Homo sapiens: one gene and its partners. The protein of the gene in region 3 interacts with the protein of the main gene of each other region in a biochemical or structural test. Each region holds a gene or a part of one and is shown on either strand. Other genes may lie near its edges.

The links.
Region 1: the proteins of CDC42 (region 3) and FGD1 form a complex in vitro, tested with the Homo sapiens proteins (one study listed by BioGRID).
Region 2: the proteins of CDC42 (region 3) and KHDRBS1 form a complex in vitro, tested with the Homo sapiens proteins (one large-scale study listed by BioGRID).
Region 4: the proteins of CDC42 (region 3) and STAU1 form a complex in vitro, tested with the Homo sapiens proteins (one large-scale study listed by BioGRID).
Region 5: the proteins of CDC42 (region 3) and BNIP2 form a complex in vitro, tested with the Homo sapiens proteins (2 studies listed by BioGRID, with this or other methods).
Region 6: the proteins of CDC42 (region 3) and FKBP3 form a complex in vitro, tested with the Homo sapiens proteins (one large-scale study listed by BioGRID).
Region 7: the proteins of CDC42 (region 3) and NASP form a complex in vitro, tested with the Homo sapiens proteins (one large-scale study listed by BioGRID).

What each region holds. Positions count from the first base shown.
Region 1 is NC_000023.11:54,448,095-54,451,234, forward strand, and holds part of FGD1 (FYVE, RhoGEF and PH domain-containing protein 1), read right to left. Parts: intron 2,208-3,140; coding exon 2,177-2,207; intron 1,667-2,176; coding exon 1,565-1,666; intron 1,175-1,564; coding exon 1,049-1,174; intron 874-1,048; coding exon 712-873; intron 1-711. UniProt on the Homo sapiens protein: Activates CDC42, a member of the Ras-like family of Rho- and Rac proteins, by exchanging bound GDP for free GTP. Plays a role in regulating the actin cytoskeleton and cell shape.
Region 2 is NC_000001.11:32,016,868-32,020,367, reverse strand, and holds part of KHDRBS1 (KH domain-containing, RNA-binding, signal transduction-associated protein 1), read right to left. Parts: intron 1-3,500. UniProt on the Homo sapiens protein: Recruited and tyrosine phosphorylated by several receptor systems, for example the T-cell, leptin and insulin receptors. Once phosphorylated, functions as an adapter protein in signal transduction cascades by binding to SH2 and SH3 domain-containing proteins.
Region 3 is NC_000001.11:22,097,709-22,101,860, reverse strand, and holds the end of CDC42 (cell division control protein 42 homolog isoform 1 precursor), read right to left. Parts: 3' UTR 501-4,152; downstream 1-500. UniProt on the Homo sapiens protein: Plasma membrane-associated small GTPase which cycles between an active GTP-bound and an inactive GDP-bound state. In active state binds to a variety of effector proteins to regulate cellular responses. Involved in epithelial cell polarization processes.
Region 4 is NC_000020.11:49,181,835-49,185,334, forward strand, and holds part of STAU1 (double-stranded RNA-binding protein Staufen homolog 1), read right to left. Parts: intron 1-3,500. UniProt on the Homo sapiens protein: Binds double-stranded RNA (regardless of the sequence) and tubulin.
Region 5 is NC_000015.10:59,675,821-59,679,320, forward strand, and holds part of BNIP2 (BCL2/adenovirus E1B 19 kDa protein-interacting protein 2), read right to left. Parts: intron 2,268-3,500; coding exon 2,091-2,267; intron 1-2,090.
Region 6 is NC_000014.9:45,120,982-45,124,481, reverse strand, and holds part of FKBP3 (peptidyl-prolyl cis-trans isomerase FKBP3), read left to right. Parts: intron 1-2,861; coding exon 2,862-2,997; intron 2,998-3,500. UniProt on the Homo sapiens protein: FK506- and rapamycin-binding proteins (FKBPs) constitute a family of receptors for the two immunosuppressants which inhibit T-cell proliferation by arresting two distinct cytoplasmic signal transmission pathways. PPIases accelerate the folding of proteins.
Region 7 is NC_000001.11:45,615,041-45,617,216, reverse strand, and holds part of NASP (nuclear autoantigenic sperm protein), read right to left. Parts: coding exon 2,016-2,176; intron 1,913-2,015; coding exon 1,746-1,912; intron 881-1,745; coding exon 824-880; intron 592-823; coding exon 514-591; intron 1-513. UniProt on the Homo sapiens protein: Component of the histone chaperone network. Binds and stabilizes histone H3-H4 not bound to chromatin to maintain a soluble reservoir and modulate degradation by chaperone-mediated autophagy.

The DNA of each region.
Region 1 (3,140 bases), on a different chromosome or scaffold from region 3:
ACTTTTGGGTAGAAGGGATACGGTATTTTATTATTTTTTGTTTATATTGGTCTACTTATCCTACTTTGTAATAACAAAAGACAATTTTTAAATTTTTTTTTTTTTTTTGAGACGGAGTTTTGCTGTTGTTGCCCAGGCTGGAGTACAATGGCGCGATCTTGGCTCACCGCAACCTCTGCTTCCCAGGTTCAAGCGATTTGCCTGCCTCAGCCCTCCCAAGTAGCTGGGATTGCAGGCGTGCGCCACCATGCCTGGCTAATTTTGTGTTTTTAGTAGAGATGGGGTTTCTCCACATTGGTCAGGCTGGTCCTGAACTCCCGACCTCCGGTGATTCACCCGCCTCAGCCTCCCAAAGTGCTGGGATTACAGGCATGAGCCACTGTGCCCAGCCAATTTTTTAATTTTAAAAAAATCCAGTGCTGCCACTCATTTGCTGTGTAATTTGGGCAAATGACCCCTCTGGGCCTCAGTTTCCTCGTTTGTAAAATAAAGAGAACAATAGCATGGGCAGATTAGTTACTGTGGGGATTAAATGTCTAAGTACTTAAAGATGACTGTCTTTCATTCACTCTTGCCGTCATTTTATTCACTCCAAGCCTGGGTCCCTTGATCACTACTGTTTCCCAAATACTCGGGCCTCCTCAGTCTCACTGGGTAGAGTTGGAACCCATTTGCCCACTGTGGGAGAGTTAGTCAGGGGCTGGCTCTTACCTCCAGGATGGACCTCCGGCGCTGGGGTGTATGCTGGCTGCAGGCTGGACTGCTCCCAGGCACCCCGTGCAAGGCCACATAGCAATCAGTGCACACACGGTTGGAGCGGTTGTTGTCATAGACGAGGCGGGCCCGGAACTCGGAGCACTTCCCACAAACCACCTGGGGTGGCAAGTGGGCAAGAGTAGCCTGATTCCAGCGGGTCTTCCCTTCAGCATACCAACTCCCACAGCAGACTTGTGGCCTCCCCCCACTTGGAGGGTACCCACTCTGCAGTGGGCCTTTGGGCTGCCATTCTGTCCCCTCCCTAGCTCTGCCCCTGCCTCCCAACACTCACATGCCCGCAGGCCTTGCAGTGGTGCCTGCGTTTGGTGATAGAATTGAAGGGCTCCTGGCAGCGCATGCACATGGTGACTTCCTTTTCCCGGATGGGCGTAGGTGCCCGCTTCCCAAGATCCACGTTCTGTAGGGAGGGCCAGGTCTCAGGTCAGAGACAGCTACTCCCCAGCCCAGTCCAGCCAGCCCTTGTTCCTGCTCCAACGCTTGGATTATCATGGGGTGGGGATGGGCTGGGGGTAGGGGGAGCAGCCACATTCAGAAGACCTGCCTTTAAGTCCTGGCTCTGCTCCTAGCTGTGCTACTGAAGACAAGTCACTTCTATTATACTTTCTGGGCCTCAGTTTCCCCAATGATTTCTCTGTGGCCCTACCAATGGAAGACTGCTTCTGAAGTCATGCATTGCCTCTCTGGTCATTACCGTCTAGGAAAGGGAGAGGATCATCTAAAGGTCAGGTGGGCATTTGGAAGTCTGGAAGGGGTCCCAGTGCAGGGGAAAGAGGGCGGGGACTCTTACTGGAGAGTTGGGTGGGGTGTCTTCATCTTCCCTGTTTGTTGAGTTCAACAGTTTGAAAGTCTCCAGCGTCTGTTCATGCTTCAGGAGGGTGGAGTTGATGGCCTGGGGAGGAGGTGTAAGAAATGAGAAGTCAGATCACCCCACAAACTACCCATTTCTACCCTCGCCTCACCTTCGTATACCCTAGCCTGAAGTTAGAAAAGCTGGGTTTCAAACCCAGTTCTGTCACTGGTAGGTGGATGACTTTGAACAAATCCCCTCCCAAATCCAGGTCTCAGTGTTACAAGTGTAAAATGGGGGAGGGGGAGTGGTGGCTGAAAAACCTCAGGTGGCTTTCCTGGCCACCTTCTGGGCTTAAGATTTTACAGAGCTTGACACCCTCACCTTATACACCCTCAGAGAAACCAGCTTCCTAAAAGAAGAGTTTGTGAGTTTCTGCTCAACCTCTGCACCTCAGTTTGCTTATCTGTAAAATGGGGATAGTAAAGTTTGCTGAAAGACAGTTGTCCAGGACCATTCTGGTTAGCTGTGAGTTTTGAGGGAGAATCTATCAACCCCTAGGAGACCTGTTAATACTCTTCTAGCCCCCTACCACAGAGCCTTGGATGTTACCTGGACCCAGTCTTTCTTCTCCTCCTCAGTCCTTGGGGTGGGGAATAAAAAAGAAAGATGTTTGGTTAGGTAGGCCCACAAAAAGCAATAGGAGTGGAAGAGCAGGTGTTTTGGAGTCAGAAAGACCTGGGCTTGACCCTCTTCTTCACCTATTACTTATATGACCTTGGGCAAGTCACATAATCTGCCTGGGTTTATTTATTCAACGATTACTAATACTTTCCAGACCCTGTGCTAAGAACTTGAGCTTCAGAGAGGACCCTGCCCTCAAGGAGCTCATGGTCTAGTAGAGGAAATAGACAGGGACAATACAGGGAGATCAGTGTTTTGATGGTGAAAATAAGGCCAAGGAGCCCAGAGGAGGTGACATGCCCCAGTCTGAAGTTTGGGTGAGGACTTTTCAAGGAGGTGCTAGGCCTCAGGTAGAGGGGTAAGGGTGAAATGTGTGGGAGAGAATATAGAACATAAAAGAAACCGTGTCAATAATTATCAGTTGGCCGGGTGTGGGTGGCTCACACCTGTAATCCCAGCACTTTGAGAGGTCAAGGCGGGTGGATCACTTGAGGTCAGGAATTGGAGACCAGCCCGGCCAACATGGTGAAATTCTGTCTCTACTAAAAGTACAAAAATTAGCCGGGCGTGATGGCTCATGCCTGTAGTCCCAGCTACTCAGGGGGCTGAGGCATGAGAATCGCTTGAGCCCAGGAGGCGGAGGTTGCAGTGAGCGGAGATCGTCCCACTGCACTCCAGCCTGGGTGACAGAGTGAGACTCTGTCTCAAAAAGGAAAAAAAATTCTCTGTTGCTGGGTGTCAAGTTGAGAAAAGAGGGTAGTTTTTTTTTCATTTGTAAAATGGAGATAATGATTATCACTCTCTGGGTTCTCAGCAGTAACCGAGGTAACGTGTACAGTGCTCAGCACAATGTCTGGCACACTCGATGCTCAATCAGTGTGCGTTCCCCTTC
Region 2 (3,500 bases), 9.9 Mb from region 3:
GGCAGCCTCGACCTCCTGGGTTCAAGCGATTCTTCCACCTCAGCCTAAGACCAATCTCCTGGGTTCAAGTGATCCTTCTGCTTCAGGCTCCCGGGTAGTTGGGACTATGGGTGTGTGCCGCCATTCTCAGCTAATTTTTAAATTTTCTGTAGAGACAAGCTCTCACTAGGGCTCAAGCAATCCTCTCACCTTGGCCTCCCAAAGTCCTGGGATTACAGGCATGAGCCACCATGCCCAGCCAATAAGCACATTTAGTTTTGTAAAAAACAAAAAACAAACAAACAAACAAAACCTGCATTGGGCTGGGCATGGTGGCTCACACCTGTAACACAGGCACTTTGGGAGGCTGAAGAGGGAGGATCATGGTCAGGAATTTGAGACCAGCCTGGCCAACACGGTGAAACCCCATCTCTACTAAAAATACAAAAATCAGCCGGGCATGGTGGTGGGCGCCTGTAATCCCACCTACTCGGGAGGCTGAGGCAGGAGAACTGCTTGAAACCGAAAGGTAGAGGTAGCAGTCAGCCAAGATCGCGCCACTGCACTCCAGCGTGAGCGACAGAGCGAGACTCAATCTCAAAACAAACAAACAAACAAAAAAACAAAACCTGCAATATCACAGATAAATGTATACTTAATGATATTCTGCTTTATCTTACTAGGCTTTGTTTTATAGAAATAGTATTATACTGTATGTAGTCTTATGGGATGTACTTTCTTCATATAACATTAGATTTTGGAGATTTCTCCATGTTGTTGCCTGCAGCTATAGTTCATCCATTTTCACTGCTGTACAAATATTTTCTTTTTCTTTCTTTCTTTCTTTTTGTTTTTTTTTGAGATTGAGTTTCACTTGTTGGCTAGATCTCAGCTCACTGCAACCTCTGTCTCCCGGGTTTCAGCAATTCTCCTGCCTCAGCCTTCCAAGTAGCCGGCATTACAGGCACCTGCCACCACGCCCAACTAATTTTTGTATTTTTAGTAAAGACAGGGTTTCACCATGTTGGTCAGGCTGGTCTTAAACTCCTGACCTCAGTTAATCCACCCGCCTCTGCCTCCCAAAATGCTGGGATTACAGGCGTGAGAAACTGTGCCCAGCCAAATATTTTCTGTTGTAAATCTATCACATTATCCAATGAATGGTGAAACAAGTTGCAATGTTTTGTGAACAAGGTACACCATTTCATGAATCAAGTGCTCATGTATAAGTTTCTTTGAGCATATTCCTAGAAAAGGTGTTGCTGGTTTTTTGTTTGTTTGTTTGTTTTTTAAGACAGAGTCTCGCTCTGTCGCCCAGGCTGGAGTGCAGTGGCGGCGCAATCTCGGCTCACTGCAAACTCCACCTCCTGGGTTCAAGTGATTCTCCTGCCTCAGCCTCCTGAGTAGCTGGAATTACAGGCTCCCGAGTAGCTAGGATTACAGGCACGTGCCACCACACCCAGCTATCTTTTGTATTTTTAGTAGAGACAGGGTTTCACCATGTTGGTCAGACTGGTCTCGAACTTCTGACCTCAAGTGATCCGACTGCCTTGGCATCCCAAAGTGCTGGGATTACAGGCATGGGCCACCGCACCTGGCCTTACTCTCCAGTTTGTTTGTTTGTTTGTTTTTGAGACGGAGTCTCACTCTGTCCCCCAGGCTGGAGTGCAGTGGCGCGATCTCGGCTCACTGCAAACTCCGCCTCCCGGGTTCACGCCATTCTCCTGCCTCAGCCTCCCCAGTAGCTGGGACTACAGGCGCCCGCCACTGCGCCCGGCTAATTTTTTTGTATCTTTTAGTAGAGACGGGGTTTCACTGTGTTAGCCAGGATGGTCTTGATCTCCTGACCTCGTGATCCACCCGCCTCGGCCTCCCAACGTGCTGGGATTACAGGCGTGAGCCACCGCACCCGGCCTGTTTGCTTTTTTGAGACGGAGTCTCACACTGTCGCCCAGGCTGGAGTGCAGTGGTGCGATCTTGGCTCACTGCAACCTCCGTCTCCTGAGTTCAAATGATCTTCCTGCCTTAGCCTCCTGAGTAGCTGGGATTACAGGCGCCCACCACCACACCAGGGGTAATTTTTTGTATTTTTAGTAGAGACAGGGTTTCACCACGTTGGCCAGGCTGGTCTCGAACTCCTGACCTCGTGCTTTGCCTGCCTCGGCCTCCCAAAGTGCTGGGATTACAGGCATGAGCCACCAGGCCCGGCCCTTATTTTCCAGTTTTAAAAGCAGGTTTTGCTAGCCCTGTAGAATGAACTGGGAAGGTCTTAATGTATTTCTAGAGAATACTGTAAATAAAGGAATTAACTATTTTGAAGTTTCAACAGACTTTGTAAATGTTTTCCACTGTATGCTTTTGAAGGATGGATTTTTGAGTATCTCTCCAAGATCTTTTGCAGATTGCTAATCTATTCAAAATGTTTATTCTTGAGTCACTTATACTAACTTGTATTTCCCTAATTGTAGAAAGTAGAAAAATAGGCCGGGCGCAGTGGCTCATGCCTGTAATTCCAGCACTTTGGGAGGCCGAGGCAGGCGGATCACCTGAGGTCGGGAGTTTGAGACCAGCCTGACCAACATGGAGAAACCCCGTCTCTACTAAAAATACGAAATTAGCCGGGCGTGGTGGCACATGCCTATAATCCCAGCTACCAGGGAAGCTGAGGCAGGAGAATTGCTTGAACCTGGGAGGTGGAGGTTGCGGTGAGCCAAGATCGCGCCATTGCACTCCAGCCTGGGCAACAAAAGTGCAACTCCGTCTCAAAAAAAAAAAAAAAAAAAAAAAAGTAGAAAAAGAACACTGGTATCTATACAACAGCATTTTACTTACTATATAAATATATTAACACAATAAGGTAAATTATTTCTCTTCCAGAAAACAAAGATAGATGATTGAATCCTTATGTCTGCAGACACATTCGAATATATACAACAGCATTTTACTTAGTATATAAATATATTAACACAATAAGGTAAATTATTTCTCTTCCAGAAAACAAAGATGGATGATTGAATCCTTATGTCTGCAGATACATTCGACAGTCATCACAGCTGAATATCAATCTGGCTAACATAGAAGTCTACATTCAAAATCTACATCCCTCAAAATTTTGTCTTTTTTTTTTTTTTGAGACGGAGTCTTGCTTCTTCACCCAGGCTGGAGTGCAATGGTGCAATCTGGGCTCACTGTAACCTCCAACTCCCGGTTTCAAGTGATTCTCCTGCCTCAGCCTCCCAAGTAGCTGGGATTACAGGCATGTGCCACCACGCCCGGCTAATTTTTGTATTTTTGGTAGAGACGGGGTTTCACCATGTTGGCCAGGCTGGTCTTGAACTCCTGACCTCAAGTGATCCGTCTGCCTCAGCCTCCCAAAGTGTTGGGATTATAGGTGTGAGCCACCGTGCACGGCTGTCATCATTTTTTCATCAGTCCCATCTTCAATGAAGGTGAATATGTATTATTTCGTGAAATATTTAATAAGAGGCCACTCTGTGCAGCACTCTTCAAGGCATAGAAGA
Region 3 (4,152 bases):
GTATTTATCCTATAAACAAAAACCAACTCGGTCTTTACTGGTTACTGCTATACATTTTTTTTAAAACTACAGACTGAACCAAACTTAGAATCTCTCAACTATATCAGTAAAAATCTAAAAAGATTCTCCATATAGGGATAATAATCACAAAATTCTTGAAGACTCACTAGTCTACTTGTATATTTAGTATACAGGTTTTATAGATTTTTGTTAACTACCTGTCAATAGCTAGCAAAAAATCCTGAAACTTAAGAGGCTACAGAAATGAACCTGCACCAGTCGTGTTCAAATCCCTTGGCAACACCTTAGAGGTTACTAGGGCTGCACAAAGTTTATCTCTGTTTGCAACAAGGAGGCAGTGGGAAGAGTAAAGCTGCTGGGCCTGCATTAACTACAGCAACTCTGTTTCATACACCTTTTCTGTTTCTACAGTGGGGCTCTATATAAGCTTTTGTTTATGAAAAAGAAGGCCTACTGAAAAAAAGACACAAACCAAAAAGGAACAGAAACTCATTTTATTGAGATGAGGAAACCAAGGCCCAAAAAGGTATGGCAACTTGCCCAAGGAAACTCTGGTGCCTCAACTAGAACCTGGATCTTCAACTTCCAACTGAGAGCTCTTTCCAACAGTGTTATTACTACCATGGGAGAAATGAAGATATAGTATCAAACACCATAATGCAAGTTAGGAGCAAAAACAGGACTTGATTTATCACGCTATATGTACCAGGGTTCACGGAGTTTTCTAGCAGCAGAGGAGATAATCACAAACTCAGCACCCTCCAGTAAAGTCATTCTTACAAGAAGCCAGTGAAGAATTCACAGGTGCCTGCCCACCCTTCACAAGCTGCCAAGAGATGGACCTAACTCCTTAACACCAATAATTCCAATACAATTGTGAAATCCTCAAGTTATGGAGAAAAAGGAGCATTTCTTTAAGAGCTTCAGAATCAAGACAAAAAAAATCCCTCTCCCATCAAACTAGTGCAAACCTTACAAAGGAGGGCTAAGAAGCTAGCACTGGGGCCCCATGGTGGGTCTGGAACTCCATACACATTTCCAGCCCTATCAGAGTTGGTTAGAGATGAAATTAAAAGCCTTACTCTACTCCTGGCAATGAGTATGAGGAGGAAGCCCCTCACTGATACAGCAGTTTAAGACCCAGAAGTCAACAGGGTTTTCTGGTCCTGATTTGATGTGAGCCAACAATGATGACAGTGATGAAGACAGCTGCTATCTACCCCATTCACAGATGAGTACCTTCTACTTGCCAGGCACTATGCTAAGAACCTCACATATAGCAATTCATGTCACTCTCACAACTCTTGGGCAAAGTACAGCTATTTCCACTTCACAGAGAATGCAACACTCAGAGCATTTAAGTTACTTGCCTGAAGACATAGATCAAGTTAGTGGCAGAGCCAAACTCAAATCCAAAGCCTATGCATGTACTTCGCACAACACCAACAATGCCAAGTTGTTTCGCCTCAGTTTTACCATTTGACAAATGACATCATCCATCCCTGCCTCTTTTACAGAGTTGTACTGAGGTCAAGTGAAATCACTAATACAAACATGACTTGAAGTTTAGGAGTTTACTACTTAAACTCAAAAACTGCATGAGTATCCCTGACCGTTTGCAGAGAAGATGAAGGCAGAGCCCCAGTCATCTCCCTGTGCTTGGGTCAAGCTAATGAAAGAAGGGAGCCAGGTTGCAGAGCTGGCTCCAAGCCTCCCTCAGACCTTGGGTATTCACTAAGGTGCAACTTTCTCACCAAACAAACCCTGCTCTTCCCAACTCACAGGCCTATTATACAAAAAAAAAAAAAAAGAAGAAGAAGAAGAAGAAAGAAAAAAAGGCCAGCTGAGCAGACTCTAGAGACAGACTGCTTAAATTCAAATCCCAGTTCCCTCACTTACTAGCTCTGAATTCTTGGACAAGCTAGCTCTGAATTCTTGGACAAGCTTTGTATCATAACATGCCTCAGTTTCCACATATGAAAAAATGGGGGATTGCTGAGAAGACTGAGTTAATTCACACAAAGGCTTAAAAGAGTGCCATGTAGAGAATAAACACTCAAATTTTAAGAAGGACCAAATGACACAATGGGCAAAGGCACCCTACAATCCTCTAAAGCTACACCTTTAGATCCTCTAAAGGAAGAAGGTGTCATATTCTCTCATGCTACAACTGATCCTAAAGTCACCTCCCCCAAAAAGCTCCTACCCAACAAACCTACCCTTACAGATGAAGCCTTTTATGCTGCTTTGCTTGCCCTGTGCACTATATGATGCTTCAACTACGATTTTCAGCTTTGTAATTAATCATATACATTTTATTTCCACATAAGATATGTAATGGTAAGCACACAGTTTCCAAAATCAGACAGATAGGATTTCCAACTCTGGCTGCATATACCAAGCAATTATGATGTCTCAGAGTCCTGCTCCATAAAAAGAAGATACCTGTACTATCAACCTCAGAGCTGTTGTGAGTAGCAAGTGTGATAACACCATGTGCTTAACACAGTGCAAAGGCACACAGTAAGAGCTCAATTAACAAAGCTGTTATTTCGCCAGAATATGTCCCCATTTCTTTTATGATTCTCAGCAGTTAGGGCAGAGCCCTCCTGGATGTGATTAATATTCCTTCCTTAATGCACCAATTTATTTATGGGGGCCTTGAGGCTACCTTTCTTCCTACTGCACCCGTCCCTATGCCGTGGTGAAGCAGGGCCCCCAGCCACTCTGCAAACATGCCTGGGCCCTCCTTTGTTCACATTCCCTCCACTCAGAAATCCATACCCAGCTGGGCACAGTGGCTAATGCCTGTAATCCCAGCACGTTGGGAGGCCGAGGTGGGAGGATCAGCTCAGGAGTTCGAGACCAGCCTGGGTAAAATGGCAAAACCCCCTCTCTACACAAAATGCAAAAATGAGCCAGGCGTGGTGTCACACACCTGTAGTACCTTCTACTCGGGAGGCTGAGGCGGGAGGATCGCTTGAGCTGGGGAGGTCAAGGATGCAGTGACCCAAGACCACGACACTGCACTCCAGCCTGGGTGACAGAGTGAGACCCTGTCTCCAAAAAATAAATAAGTAAAGCTGTAATGACCTATAGCCCAGAAATACTCTAAAATTCATGTCTGACACAAATAAAACCTTAAGAAATCATCTCATGTCATGGTTTTCAAACCAATGGCACATTAATCTGATGGGCTTTAAAGAAGTGATGCCTCTAAAAAATAATTTATAAAAATTTAAATGGTGCTCAGATCCTATTTCAAAACAATATGGCCCTAAGCACTGCTTTCCTTTTTTAAAAATAAGCTTCTTAGGTAACATTACACAGAACCCTTTTAACTTTTTCAAAGTTTCAAAAAGGTTCTATCACCAAGGTGTGCACTGGTCCCTAAACATAGCTCAACAAAGTTCTATCTGGGAATCTTTTAGAAATTAGATTGATTCTCAGGTCCCATTGCATACTTACAGATTCAGAATCTCAGGAGTATTTTTTTTTTCAGCCTTCCCATCTAATTGTTCACCAACCAGGAACCCGAACTGCATTTGAGACCTCAATGATAACTAAGTATGCAATTTTACAGATAATGAGGCCAGAAAAGTGGAAGCTACCTGCCAAAGGGCACGTTGTTAGGAGTAATAATGCAAACTTCATCAAAATAAAAAGATGCTTGTTCAAAATGTAGGCTCCTAGTCTCTACCCCTAAAGATTGAGAGTAAATCCTACAGGGTCCAGGAATCCTGATGACTGAGACAAGTGATCCACAGTTCACACCGAGAAAAAGCACTGCTCTGCGGGACGCATCAGAGCAAACAGAACAGTTATGATCCTGTGCTCTATTGTAATAGGGTTGAGAAAATGCTATACTTACCTTAGCCTTGAAAATCTGTCACTTCTACTTCAGAGATGCATGGTGGACCCAAAATCCATCGAGCATTTATTTGCTTTTGGGGAAATCACCTATGAGACTATGACACTGCATTAAAATCAGGGCTCTCCTCCCATCCTGACCCCACTAATCAGCAATGTGCTTTTAAACCTTCCACTGTACTCCTTTATTAGACATACTTCACATTTTTCTATAACGTAGGGCTTTAAAGACTCACTGGATATGCCTCTAAGAGGCAAGTG
Region 4 (3,500 bases), on a different chromosome or scaffold from region 3:
CATGTTCATTCAGGGGAAAAGACCCCAATGTATTTAAATAGATTTTCTTAGCCTTTATTGTCTGGGAGACATGACACAAAATTTCTATCATAATAAAATGGCCAGTTTTGCTTCCATTACTGTTATAAACCCACATAGTCATCACACTTCTTTCCCAAATTAGATTCCAGATTAAACAGATGCCAGATGGGTTACAGATTTGATATTCAGAAGACTAATTTTTAATCGAAAGCAAACACTTTCTCAAATAGATTTTTCCACTTTTGCTTCCAGTAAATATACTTTGAGGGAGTTCCCTGAGTCTACTTCTTTAACAAATAAACATATGTAATCCCAGAAAATATACAGCAATTAACAGCCTGCAGAAATTTTTCTCTACTTCCATTTATCTGGTGACATAAATCACTGTTACATCAACCTTATTCACCAGTATGGGAATGTAAACACTTAAAAAACAAATTAAGCTATTTGCAGTAATTCCCATTTTACCACTTTAAAAATATTACTTTTCTCTGCAGTAAGGTTTTCTAGTTCAGAGCATTAAGCTGTCAACAAGACAGATATCCAAGCCCATCCATCCCGTGGCATTTGATAAGATCAACACAGCTATATATTTATAATCCTATTATCTCCTTAGCAGGTGAGAACAATGGATTTGGCCAACATTATTCAAGCTTCATAATACTGTATGGTAAAATGTTCATGACAAAGAGCAGAAGGTATGCCGGGCACAGTGGCTCACGCCTGTAATCCCAGCACTTCGGGAGGCCGAGGTGGGCGGATCACAAGGTCAGGAGATCGAGACCATTCTAGCTAACACGGTGAAACCCCATCTCTACTAAAAACACAAAAAAATTAGCCAGGCATGGTGGCGGGCACCTGTAGTCCCAGCTACTCGAGAGGCTGAGGCAGGAGAATGGCATGAACCCAGGAGGTGGAGCTTGCAGTGAGCCGAGATCACACCACTGCACTCCAGCCTGGGTAACAGAGCCAGACTCCGTCTCAAAAAAAAAAAAAAAAATAGTAGACGGTGTTCAGCACCATGAAACAGGGAGGCAAAAATAGAAAGTAGATGGTATCTAAAGAGATGTACAATAAAACTTCATAAACTTTGTTATATGTTTGAAATTTTTCATAATAAAATGGTGGGGGTAAATAACCATAGCAACTAACATGTCCTCTCATAGTTCAACTGATAACTGGCAATTTATATTTTTTGGAACAGCACAAATGGTATACAGCCTTGACTCTGGTGAAGTTTTATTTAAAGAAAAGCTCATGTAGAAAATTACACGAGAAGCATTTCAACCACAAATGTCTCCATCACCAGAAGTCAATGTAAAATAACCTGTTATAGGTCTAGTGTGAAACAAATCTGTCATAAAATTCTCTAAACATTTTTGAAAGCTCTAAAATCCCATTCTGAGAGAAAAGCAACTCCAAAGCTCTTATTTGAGAGGGGAGGAATTTATATTTCCTCAAATTGAACAATTCTGTGTCACTGGGTATCACATCAAATAAGAAGATCCAATTTAGAGGCTCATGAAAACAAGGCCTCTGCCTATAATCCCAGCTACTAAGGAGGCTGAGGTGGGAAGATGACTTGAGCTCAGGAGTTCAAGACCAGCCTGGGCGACAAACTCTGGGATTGACTTGTGGAATCCCACAAAAAGATACCCTTTTCATGAAAGTTTCATCTTTATACTGAATTACACTCTTACTCAATCCAGTAAAAAGGCTCAAAGAAAGTTGCCCCACAAACTGAGACTACCTTGTGGTATTGGGGAGAGAGACTGGATGAAGCAGTATCCATTTTGATAACACCCAGAATGATATCAATGATCTGGACTTTAGAATGGGGATGGAGGAGAGTTCCATGAGTCATGGCCATTTCTAAACTTAAAATACAGTAAATCCTCTCTTAACATAAGGGGTAGGTTCTTGGAAACTGAGACTTCCGACTAACACACGCTTATTGATACAAACAAGAGTTAGGTTCTAGGGCATATTTCTCATCAGAAAAATATCACCAAACTTTTAAATAAAGACCAAACACTTCGAATATTAAACACTGAAATAAATGTGAAGTATACATGCCTTTTTTTTTTTTTTGAGAAGTACTTTTGCTCTTGTTGCCCCGGCTGGAGTGCAATGGCACGATAACCGCTCACTGCAACCTCTGCTTCCCAGGTTCAAGCAACTCTCCTGCCTCAGCCTCCTGAGTAGCTGGGATTACAGGTGCCCGCCACCCAGCCCGGCTAATTTTTTTTATTTTTAGTAGAGACAGGGTTTCGCCATGCTGGCCAGGCTGGTCTCCAACTCCTGACCTCAGGTGATCTGCCCACCTCAGCCTCCAAAAGTGCTGGGATTACAGGCATGGGGTTGCAGTAAGCCGAGACTGCACCATTGCACTGCAGCCTGGGTGACAAGAGCTAAACTCCATCTCAAAAAAAAAAATTTTTTTTTTTACCACTTATTCCAGTTCAGGGTTGGGGTGGCTGGAGCCTATCTCAGCAGCTTAGGGTGCAAGGCCGGAACCAGTCCTGGACAGGACATCCACTGCAGAAAGCACTCACACTTACACACACAGCTCCACACACCAGTGAACCTCACGTGCACAGCTTTGGGATGTGGGAGGAAATCAAGAGTACCCAGAGAAAACCCATGCAGGGATAGGGAGAACGTGTAAACTCCACAGACAGTTTTTTTTCTCAACATTATCTTGAAACAACATTATTCAAGGACCTGCTGTAATCTGTATATACATGGACTTTCTGGCTGAAACCTAAAAGAGAGCAACTTATTCTCAAGAAACTATATTTATGGTAACAATTCTCAATGCTTAAAAGTTTTACGTTAAGCTTAATGGGAAGCACTACACATTTTTAAAAATGTGTTGTGTCCTTTCCCAGATACTAAATTGGCGTTTCTTTCCTAAATCAATTTTAAGAGGTGTATCTTTCCCCATCTTCCAGGTAGTCATAACTAAAACATAACATGTAACATTTCCACTGTACCTGATCAAGCTCAAAGTACACCTACAAAACTCAAATAACAGACCTAAAAGCTGAAAACTATTCACGACCAGAAATTTGAAAGTTATGCAACAAAGACATTTATAATATTTATAATATTCCTGTCAACTTCCATTGTAAGAGAGATCCTTTAGACACAAGAAAGAAAAACGTGAACACTTATGCTGTGATTTCATACTATTCACAAAAATTAAGGTTTCATTCATATTTGCTAAATTTGTTATTTGGAAATAGGGCAGACGGGGGCACTTTGGAAAACAATTCTATGTTAGAAGATTATCTTTTGCTTAATTCTTAACCTAAGGTAACAGCAGTATCTTTACACAACTACTGTAAAGAAACATTTTAAGTTTTCATTATGAATTATTAACTGTAGTTTAACTTTGACACAAAGTTATCTCTATTAAAGTGGGTTAAAAGGCAGGTCTCTGCCAAAACAGGACTGGGGAAATCTGTATTTGTTCG
Region 5 (3,500 bases), on a different chromosome or scaffold from region 3:
GATGAATCTCAAAAACTTCATGCTGAAAAGTAAACAAAAGAGTGCATAGGATGATTTTAGTTACTATATATGAAATTCTAGAAGAGGCAAAACTAATCAGGGGGTAGATATGACAGTGGCTACCGAAGCTGAGTATTCATTGCACAGGGGTACTAAATAATTCTTCTGGGACAATGAAAATGTTCTACATTTTTAGGGGTATGGGTTTTATATATATGGGTATATATGGTTATATAGGCATTTGTCAAAACTCATTGAACTGCACACTTAAGATCAGAGCATTTCACTGTTTATAAATTAGGGAGACTGTTCAGTCCCAGTTTTGGGTAGCCTAGAGACAGTTTAAAAAATTTTTTAATTTTGAGACAGGGTCAAAAACCAAAACAAAACAAAAAACTAGAGTGCAGTGGGATGATCACGGCCACTGAAGCCTCATCTTCCCAAGCTCAAGCTCTCTCTCCTCCCACCCCAGCCTCCTAAGTAGCTGGGACTACAGGCATATGCCACCACTCCTGGCTAATTTTATTTATTTTTTTATTTTTTTTATTTTTTTGTGGAGACGAGGTCTATGTTGCCCAAGCTGGTCCTGAACTCCTGGGCTCAAGTAATCCTCCTGCCTCAGCCTCCCAAATTGCTGGGATTACAAACCTGAGCCACCGTGCCCAACCTGACAGTTTTCACTACAAATTCTTTTGTACTTTTTCAACTTACTGTATGCATATAATCATTTTTAAATGGTACTTTTATTCTTTTACTTTAAACCTGTCATGTTTCTAAAATGAATGAGAAATGCTTATTATTCTTTCAAAATTACATAATATCTCTAGGCAGAGTTTCTAAAAGTATTTAGAATTCTGATATTGCATGAAACGGCTAGGGCAGGCGAGCGCAGTGGAGTGCCGCGCGGTGCGGTGCGGGCGGCAGAGTTGGGGTGTCATGGAGGATGAGCGGAGCTTTTCGGATATCTGCGGTGGCCGCCTGGCCCTGCAGCGCCGCTACTACTTCCCTTCCTGCCGGGAATTCTGCCTCAGCTGCCCTGGGCTCTCGCTGCGTTCGCTCACCGCTGTCACCTGCACGGTGTGGCTGGCAGCCTACGGACTCTTCACCCTCTGCGAGAACAGCATGATCCTCTCTGCTGCCATCTTCATCACCCTCTTAGGTCTGCTTGGTTATCTCCATTTTGTGAAGATTGATCAGGAGACTGTTAATCATTGATTCCCTTGGCATTCAGATGACTTCATCTTATGCTTCAGGCTAAGAAAGCACTACCTTCATAGAAATGGGCAAGGTCAAGGATATTGTCATCAATGAGGCTATTTACATGCAGAAGGTGATTTACTACCTCTGCATCTTATTGAAGGATCCAGTGGAACCACATGGGATATCCCAAGTAGTACCCGTCTTCCAGAGTGCCAAGCCCCGGCTGGACTGCTTGACTGAAGTATACAGGAGCTGCCAGGGGATCCTGGCACACCAGAAAGCCACATCAACAAGCCCATGAGCCCCAGCGTTCAGAAGGCCAGCATCGTCTTCCATGGGAGATGACTCTTAAGCCATAAGGGTTGGTTTTCCGTACTCCAAACCATCAGGTGGACACAGTCCTAGGAACCATTATGGATATAGTGCATCTCAGAGCCATAGAGCAGGTGACTGGAAATCTAACTCAGTATATTTCCACGTATTATAGTGTTTTCCTTGTAAGGTTTTGCCTACTTTACCAAAGGAGGGGAGACCTTAAGAATTTTGACACAGTATGTCAAAAGTAATGTCAGCAAAGAACATTGGGAAATTGCTAAGCATGTTCAGGTTTACTTTGTTGATGTTTGTGAAGCAAAACAATGGGAAACTGACATCAGATGTCTTGAGAAAGCTATATTTTCCATTAGTGCCCCTTGTGTAAAGTTACAAAAAAAACAAGCCCTCCAGGAACTGGTTAGCAGGAAGAAATGTCCTACAAAAGACGAGTCTCTCAACCTAGCGCCTGTGTTCTGTACAGGGCTTATTTACTCTTAATAAACAGATATCCTTCCAAAAAAAAAAGAATTCTGATATTGCATTAAACAATCTGAAAAATCCTCAGTAACTCTTACCCCCATGGCTGATAACTTTTTTATAGGGTTCAATTGCCTTCATATCAACCCTGTGGTCCTGTTCTCCAATCCTGAACATACGCCAGCGTCGTCCATCTTCTTTTTCCTCTGCTGCTGTGTATTCAGTAATTGAGCCTTTCCTAATTACTTCAGTAGTCTTGGGTTTTGGAAGATCATCTGTCAAAATACAAAGTTTTTGAATCACAAATTGTTACACAACAAAAATCAAATTATACGTTAACCACTTTACTACCTAGATTTTACAGAGAATTTTCATTATACCATCTGCACAATTTTCAATCTCTCTTCCATAAAGGAGGAAAAGGCTTATTCTTAACATGAGGCTGTTTTATGTCTTTGGAAATCATGGTTCTTTAACTTTTATTGCCCAATTTAGCAAAAACCACCTAATCATAGTGAAACGTGTATCCACAAGTTCAGAAAATATAATTTGTAGAGTCATCAAAATCTTAGTACACTGGCCTTACAATGCCTTTCCAGATTCAACTTGTGACAATATTCTCCCTGGCAGTTATGACTATAGGTTACTTCAAGTAGCTATCTGGGAGCCAATTTTGTTGTTGTTGAGCACATAAATTAACTGTAATACCAGATAGGAAGTGGTTAACTACTCAATGATCACTTCTCATTTGATCAGTTTTATAAAGCAGAAATGTATTTATAATACTTTGAAGTATACATGCAGAAGTCTATTTAAATTAGCATTAGCCAAAGCATAAGCACCAATGATTAAGTGTAATTTATGTTTTGAGATTGCAGTTTAGCTGATTTTCAATGTAGTAATAATTTTCAAAATTTCAGTATTATAGTCCTTACCAAAAGATGGGGGGAGGGGGAAACCTACTGCATGTTAGTTGTTTCCAAGACAAAGCTGTTAACGGAAAATATCCTTCCAGGAAATGACTACAGCAGCATTAAAGAAAGAAGAGACAAAACACATAGGCACAAAACTATTTCAGTATCTTTACAAAGTATTGCTTACTACTGGACTGTTTATTGAACCAGTAAAACAGGGAAGAAAAAAGAAACCAAAAATATAGCATATCACACTTTATTACAGTAAAATACTGAATGCTAAACACTACTATGAAAACAAAATCATTTTCAAGATGGAAAAAAATATGTAAAAATTATAACAACTATATATAAGATACTGTAGACAATTTTGTAATTAAAGAAAGCATGCAAAGTAAAACAGCACAATTCCTTTGAATTACAAGTAATAAGGAATACTAGGTTCGGGGGCTAAAAGTATACATTAATTTAAGTTGGTCATTTCACAAAGTAGAGCAATGTCAGGCAAACCTACTTAAAAAGTCACCCCAAATGCCTCCTTTCAGAACTCCCTTCCCACAAACTGTTAACTATATGTCTCTTCAAAAGTTTCTT
Region 6 (3,500 bases), on a different chromosome or scaffold from region 3:
TGGCTCACTGCAACCTCTGCCTCCTGGATTCAAGTGATTCTCCTGCTTCAGCCCCCTAAATAGCTGGGATTTCAGGCGCCTGCCACCATGCCCAGCTAATTTTTGTATTTTTAGTAGAGATGAGGGTTTCACCATGTTGGCCAGGTTGGTCCCGAACTCCTGACCTCAGGTGATCAACCCTTCTGGGCCTCCCAAAGTGCTGGGTTTACAGGTGTGAGTAACTGCGCCCAGCTGATTGAAAGATTTCTATGCTGTATGCACCTGCTCTACTGAGAAGGTCATGGAAAAGACAAGAGTTCAAAGGCTGATAGAATTCTGGAACTTCAGGGAGGGATAGATTAAGATCCTGCATGGTTTAGGCCTTTGGACACAAAACTATAAGCAGTAATTGTTAATATCACTCTAGCAGTTGAGTAGAGGACTGACTCAAGGTGTCAGAGATAAACACAATCGGACATTAAAGTGGTGAAAACAGATTTTATTCAGCCTACTGACAGTAGGGGAAAGAGCTAAACTCCAGTCTGATTTGTGGAGGGGTAACTGGGCCTTTTAAAAGAATGAGGGGGCTGGGCCTGGTGGCTCACGCTTGTAATCCCAGCACTTTGGGAGGCCGAGGCGGGCAGATCACGAGGTCAGGAGATGGAGACCATCCTGGCTAACATGGTGAAACCCCGTCTCTACTAAAAATACAAACAAAAATTAGCTGGGTGTGGTGGCGGGCGCCTGTACTCCCAGCTACTTTGGGAGGCTGAGGCGGGAGAATGGCGTGAACCCGGGAGGCAGAGCTTGCAATGAGCCGAGATCATGCCACTGCACTCCAGCCTAGGTGACACAGCAAGACTCCATCTGAAAAAAAAAAAAAAAAAAAAAAAAAAAAAAGGAGTAGAGAGGGATTTAAGCAGAGTTAGAGAAGTGAAAAATTACATAAAGTAGGAAGTGGGGTTGGTCCATATGAAACCCATCTGAGTTTGCCAACTGGCGCTTATCAAAATCAGGCTCCCACAGAGACAGAGACAGGGGTCCTATCTTCATCTTGAGGCGTTGGCTGGAACAAACAGTAAATTTTTTTTGGCAGCCTTAAGTTTTCTTAGGCGGACACTTTAAGGAGGGATCAGGTCCTCCTAGGAATAAGGCCTTGAGCTATTTGAAACTTGTGTTTGTTCAAATCTTTATAGTCCAAGGTTGAAGGCTTGTGAAGAAGAGGTCTCAGAGGACCCTAGCTAGGGTTTGGTCAGGGAGAGAATCTTTTGCCCAAGAGGTAGACTATTTGCAAGGAGATCAGACTTTTTTTTTTTTTTTTTTAGATGGAGCCTTGCTCTGTCGCCCAGTGGTGCCATCTTGGCTCACTGCAACCTCCGCCTCCTGGATTCAAGTGATTCTCCTGACTCTACCTCCCGAGTAGCTGGGATTACAGGCACACGCCACCACATCCACCTAATTTTTGTATTTTTAATAGAGATGGGGTTTTACCATGTTGGCCAGGCTGATCTCAAACTCTTGACCTCAAGTGATCCACCCACCTTGGCCTCCCAAAGTGCTGAGATTACAGGTGTGAGCCACCGCACCCAGCACAGATATTTTTACTTACAAGTTTTGGAAAAGGATAAAACCTTCAGCTAGGGAAATGAAAGTGAATAAAAATTTGCATAACTTGACCAATTAGAAATAGATCAGGAATAGGCCAGGCGCGGTGGCTCACACTTGTAATCCCAACACTTTGGGAGGCCGAGGCGGGCGGATCACGAGGTCTGGAGTTCGAGACCATCCTGGCCAACATGGTGAAACCGTGTCTCTACTAAAAATCCAAAAAATGAGCTGGGCGTGGTGGCAGGCGCCTGTAGTCCCAGCTACTCGGGAGACTGAGGCAGGAGAATCACTTGAACCCAGGAGGCAGAGGTTGTTGCAGTGAGCCGAGATCACACCGCTGCACTCCAGCCTGGCGACAGAGTGAGACTCCATCTCAGAAAAAAAAAGAAATAGGTCAGGAATAAAGAAAACACTTTTCTCTTGCTTTTCAAACTCAGGAACTAATAGATATGAATTATTGGATATCCAAGCACACCTTTGTTATTTATTTTATGAAATTTAGAAACCAAATATAGATTTGGATAATGCAGATCCCTCTGAATTTGGTCTGAATTCAGAAACCAAATAGATTTAGGTAAGGATACTTTTAAATTCGGTACACTTCTTCTTTTTTTTAATTAACTCCCTAAGATTCTTGACAGTTCCTCTGTCTGCTTTCCTCTCATATATGAATTGCTATTGATTAGATTAATATGTAACCTTTTTTGTAGAAGACCCTGATAATCCTACTTTGTTCTAGGAAATATGCCTGTTATAGCAATTTCTTTAGGTAATTTCATCCATTGTGTGAATTTATTTTCCAAATCGGGGACAGAGGCAATATCACTGTATTCATTCTAATTGGTTATTATAAAAACACCTAGTAATATCAATTATTGCTGCTAAAACAGTTCAAATCTTTGTGGGGGGGAAGTCACCATCCCTTATTTTAATGCCTTATGATTTCATAGGAATTAAATAGTAATGATTTTTTTTAACTTTAGGAAATAACTGAAATCATGTTATGGTTTGGTGAATTATTAACAGAATCTTATTAGAAGAATTTAGGCTTCCAAAGAAGCTGGAAGTTATTTGAAATTAAATTATAGATGTGTAAGTTACTAATAGTCACATCACAGCCTTGAAATTAGATACTGAGGGTTTTGTTTGTTTATTTATTACCAAATCCATCAAACTCTTTAAACTGACTTTGGTCATTGTTGGCTATTGTTTGTCATTCTTTTAAAGGACACAAATTAATAACTCTGTGTGTGTGTGTTGTTTTTTGTTTTTAGGGTCCACCAAAATATACTAAATCTGTTCTGAAAAAGGGAGATAAAACCAACTTTCCCAAAAAGGGAGATGTTGTTCACTGCTGGTATACAGGAACACTACAAGATGGGACTGTTTTTGATACTAATATTCAAACAAGTAAGTCTAAATGGAATCTTATGTTTTTGGCTTAAAGAGATTCTAAATACTTGGGTGGCAGACAGATGAGTAGTTAGCAGTACCTTTTTCCTGACTGTCACCTACTTTCATCCAGACATACTTTCCCCCAAGATCTACTTGGAAGAGGTCTTCAGTTCACTGATTATTGGCTGGCTAAAGACCTCTTGTTCTTTGGAAAGCAAAAGATAAGGAATCTCAGTCTAAACCTGGTTAATGTCCCAAAGTAAGGCATTAGTATTTGAATAGAAAAGGCAGGATAGTATGCTGTTTTGTGATATAAGTATAGGTCCTACCCCTCTACCCTTTGTTAAGAATGTAATTATTTTTACAGCCAGAATTTTATTGATGGATGATCTTTGTAAATTTTTTCCTTCTTTTAAAATACATAGTATTGTAATTCTGAAATCAAACCACTATATTTTTCCACTGGAATTTAATAATTTCCAATGGAAATTTCTTAATAATAAATTAGAGTATATCAT
Region 7 (2,176 bases), about 24 Mb from region 3:
TGAATGGTAATCACTGTACAAGTTTGAATTCCTGTGTTTGAGTCAGGAAACAGAACAGGAGTTCAGAGTTCCCTGGCTGAGGGCAGTGGCTCACGCTTATAATCCCAGCACTTTGGGATGCCGAGGTGGGTGGATCACGAGGTCAGCAGTTCAAGACCAGCCTGGTCAGTATGGCAAAACCCAGTCTCTACTAAAAATACAAAAACTAGCCAGGCGTGGTGGCGGGCGCCTGTAATCCCAGCTACTTGGGAAGCTGAGGCAGGAGAATCACTTGAACCCGGGGGGCAGAGGTTTCAGTGAGCCGAGACTGCGCCACTGCACTCCAGCCTGGGTGACAGAGCAAGACTCCGTCTCAAAACAAAACAAAACACAACAGTCTCCACTCACAAATCCTTACCACCTTTGGAAAATAAGTGTCTTATATGCACCAACTATAGGGAGGGGTTTATAGGAAAGGGATTAAAAATGGAGTCTGAGGAAACGGTAGAAAAGAAACACCACATGTAGACTTACCTTCTTTCTGACAAGGTGGGAAATATCAGTCACACAATTTGATGAGGAAGCACCGTCTGTTGGCTTTCTACTGGCAATCTGGCAAAATAAGCCCTTATTAGCAATTGTACAAGCTATATGAGATCAATGCTGAGGCTTTTATAATTTTTTAGTTTTTCAGAGACAAGGTCTCACTATGTTGCCCAAGCTAGTGTTGAATTCCAAGCCTCAGGCAATCTTCCTGCCTTGGCCTCCCAAAATGCTGGGATTACAGGCATGAGCCAACACTGAGACTTAATGTAAGTGACCAAAAAACCACCTGAATACGCACCATGGAGACTGAAGAGCCTCCTCCACCAGGAGTGAAACCTGAAGTAGAACTCTCCACCTGCGAGAAATGACAAATCCAAATTAGTTTGAAGATAGAACCCAGGCCGCCCACAGCCTTGTAACAGGAACCCATCACCATCCAAACAACTGACTAAGACCTGAAATGCTAGTGGCCTCCATATAGTATCCAGTTCTACCCCTGGCCCACCTATGCCTGTCTAGCAGCCACCCAGAGCATAGTCTATACATAGAGTGTACATAATAAACTAAATCTTCTATATCCTACCTGCAGGGTAAAAAGGTCTGTGCCAAAAACAGAACCAGGCAATTTGTGGTGAATGCCTCTCAATGCCTCATTAATTTATGCAAATGAGTTCTTGGAGATGGAAATAGCAACTTACATTTTTTAAGAAATGTCTATTTTTCCAGTACTGTCAGAAGTATATTTTACACATATGTACTACAGGTCGGGCATCCCATCCCTTAATCCAACAATCTGAAACTTTTTGAGGACTGACTGACACTCAAAGGAAATGCTCTCTGGAGCATTTCAGATTTTAGATTAAGGGTATCCAACTGTTGAGTATGATGCAAATATTCCAAAATCCAAAAGCATTTGAAATGCAAAACACTTCTGGTCTCAAGCATTCAGGTAAGGATACTCAACCTGTATTATCCCCATTTTACAAATCGGTCAACTGAGGGAGAGAAAGGCCCATGGCCACACGTAAGTATGGAATTAAAACCCAGATAGTCTGGGGCTCCAGGGTATTTCCTCTTAACCACTGCATTACTTGATAGGAATAATTAGATGAGCCCACCAACTCCCTGGAAACCAAGTCATGATGAAAAGTTCCTGGCAAATAGAACATTAACATAAATGGTACCAAACATGCTATTATCAAAATGTTAACGGAACCAACCAGAGTAGCTTTCAGAGCCAGTTCAGCTACATTCCCACTACGCTGAGACTCCTTTGCATCTTCTATCTTCTCTCTAATTTCGGGTAGCAGTTCCTTTAGTTCCTCAATTTCTTTCTTGTATTCAGCAGACGATCCTTCAGCCTCCTTCACCTGCTCGTTTAGTACAGCTAAAAAGAATAAAGTGATTAGTAATGGCTCAAAAAAGAACTGTTTTCTTCCTTGTTAATTGCTGGATCCAACATCACCATGAAGCAGCTCGTCTTCACTCACCCATTCTGTTCTCAATGACTTCAATAGATTTGCTGAACTGTGCCACTGCCTCATCATACTGAGAGTTGTACCCATAAGCCAAGCCCAGCTGGTAGTGGGTCTCTGCAAGGAGACGGTCGTGGGCTTCCAGGTACTGTTCCTGCAGGTTAAGGCAGGACTGG